Regions from separate parts of the Homo sapiens genome. Here all the other regions are reported to be linked to region 1. Evidence: microRNA targets listed by miRTarBase, many of them from high-throughput screens and not tested one by one. Region 1 holds a microRNA gene; each other region holds the end of a gene's coding sequence.
The links. The annotated mature microRNA hsa-miR-30b-3p reads CUGGGAGGUGGAUGUUUACUUC and lies in region 1 at 1,384-1,405, shown strand. An mRNA with a match to its seed (bases 2 to 7 or 8) in the 3' UTR can be bound and repressed. Matches are read on the target gene's strand: a 7mer-m8 pairs with bases 2 to 8, a 7mer-A1 pairs with bases 2 to 7 and ends in A, and an 8mer does both.

Region 1 (3,104 bases):
TTCCCCCCACAGTTCCCAAGTACTGCTGATGCTGCTCCTCTAGGCCCATGCTTTCAGAATCACAGAGCTCATCTTACATTCTTTTCCTGCTAGATATTATGCCCAATTAATACATGAAGTAAAACAGAAAAATCCTTAACTTAAAAACATGTATTAATCCAGAAGTTTGATTATAAAAAGGTTTGTTGAAAATGTGAGACCATTTTTTCTCCCAGAGAAAAAGTATATTAATTGTCTAGCTGGGAGGGGCCTATTTGAATGTGTTTTCAGAGAAAAGCAGAAGAAAAAAATACGGTTGTAATAGAAGTAGTTAAAACAGAAAAGCAGTATGGTTGTAGAGTGGGGTGGCGGGGAGGTATATGTGTATTTAATCTTGAGAACCAATGCTTTTGGAAAACAGCCCGAAGGGACAAGAGACTAGGTAGAGACTGGCGAGGTTCCTGAAAGTCCTGGGTTACCTGTGAAATGCCAAAGATTTTTAAAGTTTGCTGGCAGTGGTTATTATATGTAGTTTTACTTCCAAATTTGAAGATTTCCTCTTCTTTGATGCAAGTGTGTTGGTAGGACCACTGATAATAGTTAGTGGAGATATTTGTGGGAATATATTTTTAATCAGAAAGAATGCAAAAAGAGGGGGAGACATTTCTTTGAGACACCTTAATGACACTGGGAACAGTAGAAGGTGGAAAGAGATCAGAGTGTGGGAAAGATGTGCCTGAGATGAAATTATCTGAATTCTGAATGTGGGGGAGAAGATGAGGAGAGGGTTGAGGGGGAGGAGAGATGACTAAGCTCCTCACAGTGTTTCATTAACTGTCTTTTACCTAAAGGAGGAATCTTCTTAATGAAGATTGGTTGATGCATCATACTGGTCATCAAGTAAGTTCTTATAAATGCAAGTTTGATTGTTTTGAAGGGAAGGATATAGGAAGGCTGGATAATCAGCTACATTTAGATATGGAACACTACAGGATGTCGGCATTTATTGTTGTAAATTCCTTTGGTGAAAAACGTTATCACTTGTTTGTGACTAGCCTGGGCAATATAGTGAGACCTTGTCTCTAAAAAAAATTTTATTAATAAGAAAAATTAGCCGGGCATAGTAGCGTGCCTGTAGTGCCCCCCACTGCCCTGGACACGCCCCCACTTCCAAAAAAACAAACACCCAACTCACTTCTGCCTTTTCCTTGGATTCTACACTTTCTCTCAGGATATCTTTCCGATTGAGTCTTGCCTCATTTATGTGAATGCTGTGCCTGTTCTTTTTTTCAACAGAGTCTTACGTAAAGAACCGTACAAACTTAGTAAAGAGTTTAAGTCCTGCTTTAAACCAAGTTTCAGTTCATGTAAACATCCTACACTCAGCTGTAATACATGGATTGGCTGGGAGGTGGATGTTTACTTCAGCTGACTTGGAATGTCAACCAATTAACATTGATAAAAGATTTGGCAAGAATAGTATACAGAGGCTTGAATTTTTAATGTAATTAATGTAATTAAAGGTTTGTTGGAAATGTGAGACCATTTTGTTCTCCCAGAGAAAAAGTGTGTTAATTGTCTAGCTGGCAGGGATCTACTTGAATATGTTTGCAGAGAAAAGCAGAAGAAAGCATGGTTGCAGTAGGAGTAGTTAAAACAGAAAAACAGTATGCTTATAGAGGAAAAATTACTCTAAATTTATTAAAATTCCTTTAAATTTGTTACTCAATTTAAATTTTTATTGTATCTTTTCAATTTTGCTATAGCACTAACATGACATAAGGCTCTGGGTATTGGGACAAAAGAATGCCCTTGTTTGGTAGTTGGGGTCGGGTTTGTAGTATTGCAGTGTGCTTTAACAAGCATGGGCTTTGACATCAGACATTTGTTGCCATCTGGACTCCACAAGTGAATTTGCTACGGGATTTGGAGGAGGGAAAGGCACTGTTTCCATACCTCAGTGGTTTTCTCATCTGTAAAATAAGTATGTGATTGCATGGATTGACTTACATGATGAATATAAAGTTGTTCATTAGTACAGTACCTGTCATATTAAGTACTCAATAAATGCTAGTTATTATTAATGCTGTGTTGTAGGTGTTCAGTAAATAGTTGCCATAATGCTTAAAGCAGACATAACTTGTTTTTATTTTTGCAATAAAGATGATGCCAACTTTTTGGTTTAATGGAAATGCTTTGAATCTTTGATATTGTTGTAATATAGTGGCAAAGAATTTTGAATCCCAGCTTCTGGAGCTCATATCTTGATTCTGCGAGTTACTTCGCTATGTTACTTTGGGGGAAGTTATTAATCTCTCTGTGCCTCAGTTTCCTCAGTCGACTAAATTGAAATTATAATAGCACCTACCTGATAGGATTGTTGAGACTAAATGAGGTAACAATTTAAAAATAAGCTAATACCTGATAATTAGTTCTATATATGTACTGATTGGTCTAAACGTTATTTCCATTTTCATGTCTTTACTTAAAATACTGAAAATTAATTTTTTATAGCTTTGTTTTTCAGTTCCATGAAATCAGCCTGCCTTTTCTTTTTTTGGTGATACATCCACATTCTGTATAGGTGAAAAGCAAAACAAACAAGTATAAAACGAAAATTATGTAAGAAGTACACACATCCTAGCAGCTTGGCAAGTGTCTGTATGCTCTTGCCTGTGCCTAAATCCAGAATTAGAATTCATGCTTGGTGCTCCTGTGGAAGATGTCTAAATGTTATGAGAAATACATGATTAAATAAAAATGTGAAATGAAAGCATGGAGACTTGTTGAAGGTGAGTGCTGTTTTTCTAATTATATATTTTATTTGTTTAATGAATAATTTGTTAATTTTCTTTGTCATTACGAGAGAGCTGTTTTATTCTGTACTTAGGTGCATAGCATACTATGTTTTAGTGAGCTCCACATGTTAATTTGAAACTTGCCAAATTTTTACATTATTTTATAATTTATAGTACTTTGAGAAACATATTGCAATGCATTACAAAGCATATAATGTAAAGGTAGTTTTATGAAGTGTTTTTCTCCCAAATTAAGCATATTTGGGAATTGCCCATCAATTTGTTTTTGAACCTCAGTGCATAAAATATAGAATTTTTCTTTCATAT
Region 2 (3,104 bases), not on the chromosome of region 1:
CATCTTAAGCAAATATTTTTTGGTCTATAATGAAAAGTGTTTGTGAAAGTATTTCCTCTTTATTCGGGGAACCGTGTCCATGACAGTGGCTAGAGTCTGAGTTTCTAAAATGCCAAATCCAGACCGCAGCAGATCTTGAAAAGTGGCTTTTTATCAAACTTAACACATGGCATATGTTTTTTCTAAAATATTACTGGTTTATCCTTTCTTTTCAGGATGATCAGAAGCTACAGGAGAGTTTAAGGCAAGGTGCTATCATTATTGCTTCATTAATCAAGGAAAGAAATTCTGGACTCATTGGTCAGCTTCTGATAGCATGAAGAACACAAAAAATTACCTATTTTCTAAAACATCTATTTGCGTATCTTAATTGTGCTTTGTGCCCCCGCTGCTGTGTGTGGTAGAATGTTTCAGTTGTCTTTTATATCTTCTCTATAATTTGTAGGATGTGATGCTTAGATTATAAAGCAGATTAATGTTTATATCTGTGAAATAAAGAATACTTTTGTGTATGACAAATATTAATTGCCTGAACCAGAAAAAAATAGTAGATAAGTGGAAAATAATAGCCTTCAAATGAATCTTTCCACAGAGACATGAACGGTCAAATAGAAATAATGATGGGGTGAGCTATTCTTTCAAGGAATGAGAATTTAGAAAACTTCAGTTATTATCCTAACTGTTAATTAATAATTTACACTATTATGAAGCTAATGGATAAACTTCAGAATTATTCTCACTTCTATAATTGTCCTGTCACCAGGTGATATTTTGTCTTTTTGTCTTGTGTTAAAAATGTCTACACTTTAATAAAAAAGGGTGAGTGGGATACCAGGGAACGGAACTGTTTGTTTCTAGCATTTTCCCCATTTGCCACATATTACTCAAGATCCCTAAAACAGATGTCATTTCCTTCTTTTCTGTTTTTAAATTGTATGTTATTTTTGGTTTATGAACTATAATTATGACTTACATTATTTTAAAGGGTCTCTAGTTTTTCTGAATGAACTTAAAAGTGTCTGGAAAGTTTCGTAGGTGATTCTGGTCAATCCCTGGTTAGTTATCTTCTATAAGGTAGAGAATCTATTGTACATCATAGAGTTAAATTAGTTATTTCAATTCAGATACTGCTACCTTTTAAAATCAAGTTCTTATTTCCAGTTTTCATTGGTATATACATCTGAAATATTAATATTTTCCCTTGCATGTTATAATTATGGGTGTCCTTTAATTCATTAGAGGTGACTTTTAATCTATACATACACTTACTCTATTTATTTTATTTTTTATTGTTTTGAAATGCAGTCGCCCTCTGTCAGGCTGGAGTGCAGTGGCACAATCTCAGCTGACTGCAACCTCTGCCTCCTGGGTTTAAGCAATTATCCTCCCTCAGCCTCCCGAGTAGCTGGGATTACAGGCACCTGCCACCACACCTGGCTAATTTTTTTTTTTTTTTTTTTTTTTTGTATTTTTAGTAGAGAAGGGTTTTCGCCATGTAGGCCAGGCTGGTCTTGAACTCCTGACCTCAAGTGATCTGCCTGCCTCGGCCTCCCAAAATGCTGGGATTATAGGTGTGAGCCACCATACCCAGCCAACATACATTTATTTTATTGAAACAGATTAGGGCTTAGGCTGCACGTGGAAACTATAAAAGTTGCATGAAGTGTTTTCAGTTAAAGATACACTATACAATATCTACCTTGTGGAATTTTTATTTAACATGTTGGGTGATTTTCCCTCTAGTGTTCAAGTATATATATAGTAGGAGAGTTTATATTTTACATTCTCCTAATTGAAATGTGTTATTTGAATGTAGGCTTGTATCTAAATTCCTGGGCCTGCCCTTTTTCTCTCTCTAGGAATATTAAGAAATTTAAAATCCATTAATTTAAGTTTTTGAGGATGGAAATAGGTAAGCAATGTGTGGATTGTGGTTAGGAATGTCTGTGCCTTTGTTCAGATGTCGGCTGTGTGTGTGACGAAAACCACAGCTGCCAAGTCCCCAACATGCACCTGTTGAAGTCATCAGGTGAAAATGTTTAAGACTTTGAAAGTGCTCATAAAGGAAGAAGGGGAAATGTTATCAAGGCTTTAAAGAGAGGGTAAGTGCCTTGAAGAAGAATGCAGTAAACTGGGCATATTTGTGGCACAGCAAAATCACCCTGATCGCTGGAGTGCTGGCTGAGTTAACATAGACTTCAGCTTAAGGAATCCTACAGCAGACAAGAATTTATCTCAGAGTACTTACTATGACATTACCCTAGGCAACTGGTAACATTTAGTATAATTTAGTTAATAAAATATTAAGTTGTGCCTGGAAAAAATAGCATTTGGTCCTTCATAGCAGGCAAAGCAATTCACAGCATTGGGAAAAAAAAATACATACATACATATACATGTATGTATACCCATATATATGTATATACATGCATGTATACCCATATATATGTATATACTTACATGTATATACATATATATGTATGTACGTACATATATACCCATATCTATGTATGTACGTACATATATACCCGTATATATGTACGTACATATATACACATATATGTATGCACGTACATATATACACATATATGTATGTACGTACATATATACACATTATGTACATACATATATACGTATATATGTACATGCATGTATGTATGTATATACGTACGCATACACACATATATTTATATACGTACGCATACACACATATATGTATATACGTACGCATACACACATATATGTATATACGTACGCATACACACATATATGTATATACGTACGCATACACACATATATGTATATACGTACGTATATACACACATATATGTATATACGTACGTATATATGTATTTTTATGTTTTATGTATATGTATTTTATATGTATATATATCTGCACATCCTTCACTATTTTCATGAGGAAATTGGAGCTCAGGGATCTTAGTTACCTTGCCAAAATCATGTGACTGAATAGTAACAAAAGTTTGGGCTTAAAATAAGGAAGACTGATAATAAGTGTTAAGCTTATATTCCTGTCTAACAATGACCCCTGGCAAAGACATCTGATATATAAGCCACGTCTGATATATAAGACGTGATATATA
Region 3 (3,090 bases), not on the chromosome of region 1:
CACAGGAGTCTTCAGCCGCCTGGGGGCCACCCCAGAAACGGACGAGGATCTGGCTTGGGACAGCGACAATGACAGCAGCAGCTCTGTCTTGCAGTATGCCGGGGTCCTGAAGAAGCTAGGACGGGGCCCAGCCAAGGCCAGTCCCCAGCCAGCACTGACTGTCAAAGCCAAGGCCACAAGCTCAGCGACAACGGCTGCTGCCCCGACACTGCGGCGCCTGGCGCTTTCCTCACGGTCTGGGCTTGAGAGGAAGCCGGAGTCCTTGTCTAAAGTCAGCATCATCAAGAGACTGGGCGCAGCTGCCCTTGTGCCCGAGGCCCAGGACAGCCAGGTCACCAGCACCAAGAGTAAGTCCTCAGCCGAGGTCAAGGTCACCATTAAGAGGACTCTGGTGGGGCCCCGGGGGAGCAGCTCCAGCGAGGGCCTTGGTGCCCAGATGGACCACGCGGGCACTGTGAGCGTGTTCAAAAGACTGGGCCGCAGGACCTTCTAGCCCACCTGTGGGCGGGGTGCAGGCAGCAGAGCCTGCGGGCATCTGCCCTGGCCGCCCCAGGCTCCTGGCTTCATCACGCCTCCCACCAGCTCCTGGATGACACAGCTTGTCTCCCTCGGGCTCTAGAGCTAGGCCCGAGCATTCGGGGGATCACCCCATTTCTCCTAGCCTGGGATGGTCGTCGCAGCTGGCCTGGCCTGCTCCAGGACTCCCCTTCTCTCATGTCCTCTGTGCTTTCTTCTCTGGCTGTGGCCTTGGCAGAACCCACTTTTCTACCTCTCCCAAGTGCCAGGGGGCTTCTTCCTCTCCTACATTCCCCTTCTTCCCCTGAGCAGGGTCTGCTGCCTCAGACCCCAGCTCATCAGCCTCCCTGTCCCCCTCAACTAAGTGGGTGTCACCTGGTGGGCCTCCCTTCCCCCACTCCCCACTGACCTCCCTCACTCCTCTGCGCCTCCCCCCACTGCTGTGACTTCTCTCTCTCCCTGTCTTCACTTTGTTCATTTCTCTTCTGTTTTCTGTCCCCGTGGCAAGGCCCGACTGTCCGCTGCGTCCTGCCCGACCCTCCTGTACCTCCGGCCTCCCAGCGGCCCCCTCGTCGGCGGTGGCGTCGAGCCTGTTGAGACTGTTAGCCGCCCTCTACTCCCAGGCTGGAGGGACCTCTCCAGACCCTGGGCTGCGGCTGAGGCGCATCCGTTTTCCTGCCCTGGGCATCTGTCTCTGAAAGTGTATGGCGGGTGGTGGGCAAGGGGCACTGGGAAGGGAGGCCAGTGCCTAGAGTGAAGACAGCTGCTGTTTTAATATATTTTTGTGACTTTCAAATCATTTCCCCCACTCCTTCAGGGTGAGTTGCAGGACTGTTTCACACTATGCGCAGCTGGGCTGGGGATGGTGGCAGAGGATTGGGCTGTGTCTCTAAAGGTCAGGCTTCCTGCACACACATGGTCCATGTCCCTGCTGCAAGCCCTGAGTCAGGGGGAGTAATGGCCACAGTCACCATTCAGTTAGGCCGCCCCCTGCCCCCAATAAGCCGTAGTGGTTTTGTCACTCTATCCCCTCCCCCCATGGATTTCACCTGCCTGCTGGCACCTTTCCAAATGATGGGCTCCGTTTGTGAGACCATGAGTTTCCACTGGTTTGGTCGCCCACCCCTCCCTGCTGCACAGCGCCCCTGAGCCAGGCCTGTCCTAGGAGCTGGTAGCAGGTAGTGAGCAGGGCCTCTCCAGGGATGGGGTGTAGGTAAAGCGGTGGTGCTGGCCAAGGAATCTGAGGAGTGGGAGAAAGTGGCCAGGGCCGCTTCAGTGGTTGTGGATAGGAAGGCCTTGCAGAAGGGGTGACATGGAGGCCAAGTTGGGAATGTGGCTTCATGAAGTTCAGGAGGAGAGCTTTCAGACAGAGGGACAGCCAGGGGCAGAGGTGCTGAGGTGGGACAAGGAACAGGAAGAAGGCTGGTGGCTGTGGGTGAGGGTGGGCCCTGCCTCCAGCATGAGGCAGAGGTGGGTGGGCAGGGGCTAGGTGGCTGGGGGTGTTGTGATCAAGGAGGAGGAATGTGCACAGTGACCCGGGAGTGCTGGATCGGGAGGATTTGGAGCTGGGATGTGCTGAGCTGAGTTTCATTTAGGATCATCGCTCTGGCTTCTGTGAGGAGAAGGAATGGCTGGGAGGGCTGGGGTGGATGCCACTGCAGCAGTCCAGGCAGGAAGCCAGGATGGCTGCGAGGGCATGGCAGTGGGGAGCAGGGAAGAGGGCCGCTTGGGCTGCTTAGGGTGTGCTTTGGAGGAAGAGCTGTGGGATGTGCTGATGGGTTGGAAGTTGGGGCTAGAGAAGATGAGAATCATAGGGCCCGCCTAGATGTTAGACCGGAGCATCTGGGGGAACGGCTGTTAACAGAGAAGGGGAGACGGGAGGAAGGTCAAGGAAGAGGGAGCTGTGTTCTGACTGCATTGCGCCTGTTAGGGTCCCCGCTGGGGCTCAGGCGGACACCTGGGCTGGGGGTTCATGGCTGCTGACAGTGCGCAGGGTACAGCTGGAATCAAAGCCAAGGGCCTTGGCTGGGCGTGGTGGCTTACGCTTGTAATCCCAGCAGTTTGGGAGGCCAAGGCGGGTGGATCACAAGGTCAGGAGTTCGAGACCAGCCTGGCCAAGATGGTGAAACCCCGTCTCTACTAAAAATACAAAAATTAGCCGGGTGTGGTGACAGGTGCCTGTAATCCCGGCTACTTAGGAGGCTGAGGCAGGAGGATCGCTTGAACCCGGGAGGTGGAGGTTGCAGTGAGCTGAGATCGTGCCACTGCACTCCAGCCTAGGCAACAAGAGCGAGACTCCATCTCAAAAAAAAAAAAAAAAAAAGCCAAGGGCCTGGTAATACCAGCTGGAAAGGGATCATAGAGATTGGAGGGAATCTGGGGCCCTTTCCCTGTTTAGAGAACAGGAACTGACAAAAAGAGACAGCCTAGGAGAGGTCAGGGGGTTGGAGGAGAATTAATGAGAGAGCAGGTAAAGATGAGACTAGATCTCATCCGTTTATTTATTTATTTTCATTGTGTGAAAATATACCTCGTGAAATTTACAATTTTAACCATTTTATTTTATTTTTATTG
Region 4 (3,104 bases), not on the chromosome of region 1:
TCCGTCTCTAAAATGAGCACAGGGGTGCAGTGGCGCACCCATAGTCTCAGCTACTTGGGAGGCTGAGGCAGGATCACTTGAGGCCAGAAGTTTGAGGCTATAGTGCACACTGATCATACTGTGAATAGCCACTGCACTGCAGCCTGGGCAACATAGGGAGACCTCATTTCCTCAAGGAAAAAAAAAGTGCACAAAAGCCACTGTAGTCAACTAGGATATTTAGACCACAGGTAGTCATCTTATTCTTACTGTCACAGATTATTGTTCCACATCAGCGTGGCTAGGGCATCTGGTTACCTGCCAAGGTCAAATCTGCTTTTAGAAAATATAATTAATGATTTCTCCTTTCTCCCCTTTCTGTTTTCTTTCTACCCTGGGATACAAGCAGAGATAGCCCCCTCCTGTCTCTCATTCACTTTAACACTGAGGTGGGAACTATTGCCTCTTTTCTTTTACAGGCAAATGGCATCAAGATTGGGCCCCAACAGTCAATTTCAACATCAGTGGGACCCAGTGCCTCCCAGCGGAACTCTCGTGACATAGGGTCCAACTCTGGCTGCTGCTGAACATCTGGCTTGAACTTTTTTTGTCCTTCCTGGAATAGCTTCAGATCAATAGGCTTAATGAAAGAGGTCTTTCTTGCTTTGGCTGAGAGCAGCCTCTTTTTAAAGTGTGATGTTTTGCCTTTCCACCTAAAGACCAGGAGAGAATTTGGGCCCTTACTGACCTGTCCTCCTTCAGGGACATGAGCATTCCCTATAGATTAGGGTTCTTCTTATCCTCCTATACAAATTTCTTAAATTGTTAGGATCAAAGTTGATTATCACAGTAGTTAAAAAATAATTTCATGGCGGGGCGCCATGGCTCATGCCTGTAATCCTAGCACTTTGGGAGGCCAAGGTGGGCAGATCACCTGAGGTCAAGAGTTCGAGACCAGCCTGACCAACTTGGAGAAATGCCATCTCAACTGAAAATACAAAATTAGCTGGGTGTGGTGGTGCATGCCTGTAATCCCAGGTACTCGGGAGGCCAAGGCAGGAGAATCGCTTGAACCCAGGAGGTGAAGGTTACGCTAAGCCAAGATCACGCCATTGCACTGCAGCCTGGGCAACAAGAGCAAAACTCTGTCTCAAATAAATAAATAATTTTTTTTTTCTTTTTTTTTTTTTTTTTTTGGGGGGATGGAGTCTCACTCTGTCTCCAGGCTGGAGTGCAGTGGCATGATCTTGGCTCACTGCAACCTCCACTTTCCAGGTTCAAGCAGTTCTCCTGCCTCAACCTCCCGAGTAGCTGGGACTACAGGCATGTGCCACCACACCTGGCTCATTTTTGTATTTTTAGTAGAGACAGGGTTTCACCATGTTGGCCAGGATGGTCTTGATCTCTTGACCTCGTGATCCGCCCACCTTGGCCTCCCAAAGTGCTGGATTACAGGTGTGAGCCACCGTGCCTGGCCTAAATAAATAATTTCGTAAGCATATACAATCCACTTCCCACTAAGAATTAGGGTCAAAGACATTCTATTTGAACACTTGCAATTACCTAGATCTAGTTGGCCTTTGGTTGATAGATCCTCTGCCTCGGAATTTCATTGAGTTTTTTTCTTCCTTGCCTTTGGGTGTCTGCTTGCCACTTCCTAAGAATTCTTGTAGAAGGCAGTTTCCTCTACTTGCCCAAGAGCACTGAGTACTTCTCTACTATCCTATTATTAGCTTCTATCTCTTAGTGTAACTTCAAAACTTTTAAGAGCAGTGAAGTTGGTCAGGGACATGTGGCCACTTATTATTACCTAAAGAAAACATTTGTTCCCTGTTCATTTTATTTTAGGGGCCAGATCTAACATTGTAGTGTCTTTCACCAGATAGACTTCTACTGTTTCATCAAACTCCCTTCTTAACTAGACCTAGACTTTCTACTCCAATCAGGCTAATCTACTTACTGAATGTGACATATTTATTCCTAGTTCCATACCTTTGCACATGCCCTACTCTCCACTAATTATACTTAAAAGTCCAAAAATTTTTTCTTTAGTAACAGACTTAGGTACTGCTAAGCAGTTATTAACACAATATTCCTTAGTTTTCATATGTTGGTTATTCATATGTCTATTTATATGTATATTTATTTTTATGTATGTTACTATGTAAATATGGTTTGCAGTTGTTTTTGTGTGGAATCTTGTCTTTCCGTATAAGTTGTAAGCTCCTTGAGAGCAGGATCCATGTCATTCCTTTATTTTTATAAATTATTCCCCCTATCATTCCTTTACAGTGCCTAGTGCTACTCATTATGTGTTCATTGAATTTGACTGACATAGTTAAAAACTTAAGGTTTATTTTAGACTTTCAAGGAAACAAAAGACTTTAGAGTCCTCTCTCTGTAATTCTGCCCCACTCATTTGTTTACCCTGGGTTTTATACAGTTCTCTTCCTTCTCCCCTCCCACCTTTCCCTGGCTTTTTGCCTCCATTCCATGAGGCATACAGTAAGGCTGCCTGCTAGTAAGCAGTCACATAAGTGGGTACCTATCCAGCCATTCTCTTTTCAGAGCATATAATACTATCTTAGCCAAACTTGCCTTTGCTTCACTCATCATGCAGCCTTCTGGGTTGGTTGCTATATATATCTTTTTTCCTTGATGTCCCGTTCTCTTCCACAGCCCTGAGGTCTTACGAATTTTTCTACTTTCTTTTTGCTGTTGATGAATTGTTTCATTATTAAATATATGCATGTATCAAAGCTATTCATACTCCATGTGTCATTTCTAATTGTATCCCAAACATTAGTAGATACTCTCCTCTCAGGGAATTAAATCAAAGATAATGAAGAAGCCTCTTTGGGATTCATGCTATACTCGATTCTGACCCCAGTAGTAGTAGTAATAGTTGACAGTGCACCACAGGAAGTTGGAAGACATTTGGGGTATTGCTTTGGTTATGCTTTTGTTTTGTTTTTAAAATCCTATCTGATTCCAAAAAGGATTTGAAGCTGTTGAACTTGGAGTTAGCCTGCCCCCTTACCTCTGGGCGAAAACTAAAGTAATAAAAACTAGTTTCTGTACAGAAGGTTTTTTTTTTGTTTTTTTTTTTTTTACTACCCAAAAAA

Region 2: miRTarBase lists CRPPA as a target of hsa-miR-30b-3p. Seed matches in the 3' UTR shown: 8mer at 1,548-1,555.
Region 3: the mRNA of C19orf47 is a reported target of hsa-miR-30b-3p. Seed matches in the 3' UTR shown: 7mer-m8 at 572-578, 7mer-A1 at 772-778 and 7mer-m8 at 1,070-1,076.
Region 4: miRTarBase lists RAB2B as a target of hsa-miR-30b-3p. Seed matches in the 3' UTR shown: 8mer at 1,412-1,419 and 7mer-m8 at 2,438-2,444.

Annotation. Positions count from the first base shown.
Region 1 is chr8:134,798,833-134,801,936 of GRCh38, reverse strand. MIR30B (microRNA 30b) reads left to right here and starts at 1,330; the gene lies at 1,330-1,417. It also overlaps a transcript of ZFAT not described here.
Region 2 is chr7:16,088,911-16,092,014 of GRCh38, reverse strand. It overlaps CRPPA (CDP-L-ribitol pyrophosphorylase A), which reads left to right. Exons shown (of 10, transcript NM_001101426.4): 10 at 216-3,104. The coding sequence ends at 320. Among named protein-coding and RNA genes, the nearest start is that of CRPPA-AS1, 120 kb to the left of the region's middle. RefSeq lists a silencer at 44-244.
Region 3 is chr19:40,319,285-40,322,374 of GRCh38, reverse strand. It overlaps C19orf47 (chromosome 19 open reading frame 47), which reads left to right. Exons shown (of 9, transcript NM_001256441.2): 9 at 1-2,839. The coding sequence ends at 493. Among named protein-coding and RNA genes, the nearest start is that of C19orf47, 28 kb to the left of the region's middle.
Region 4 is chr14:21,458,658-21,461,761 of GRCh38, reverse strand. It overlaps RAB2B (RAB2B, member RAS oncogene family), which reads left to right. Exons shown (of 8, transcript NM_032846.4): 8 at 459-2,742. The coding sequence ends at 566. The region is part of intron 1 of LOC124903283 (a long non-coding RNA gene); the gene reads right to left. Among named protein-coding and RNA genes, the nearest start is that of CHD8, 4.1 kb to the right of the region's middle.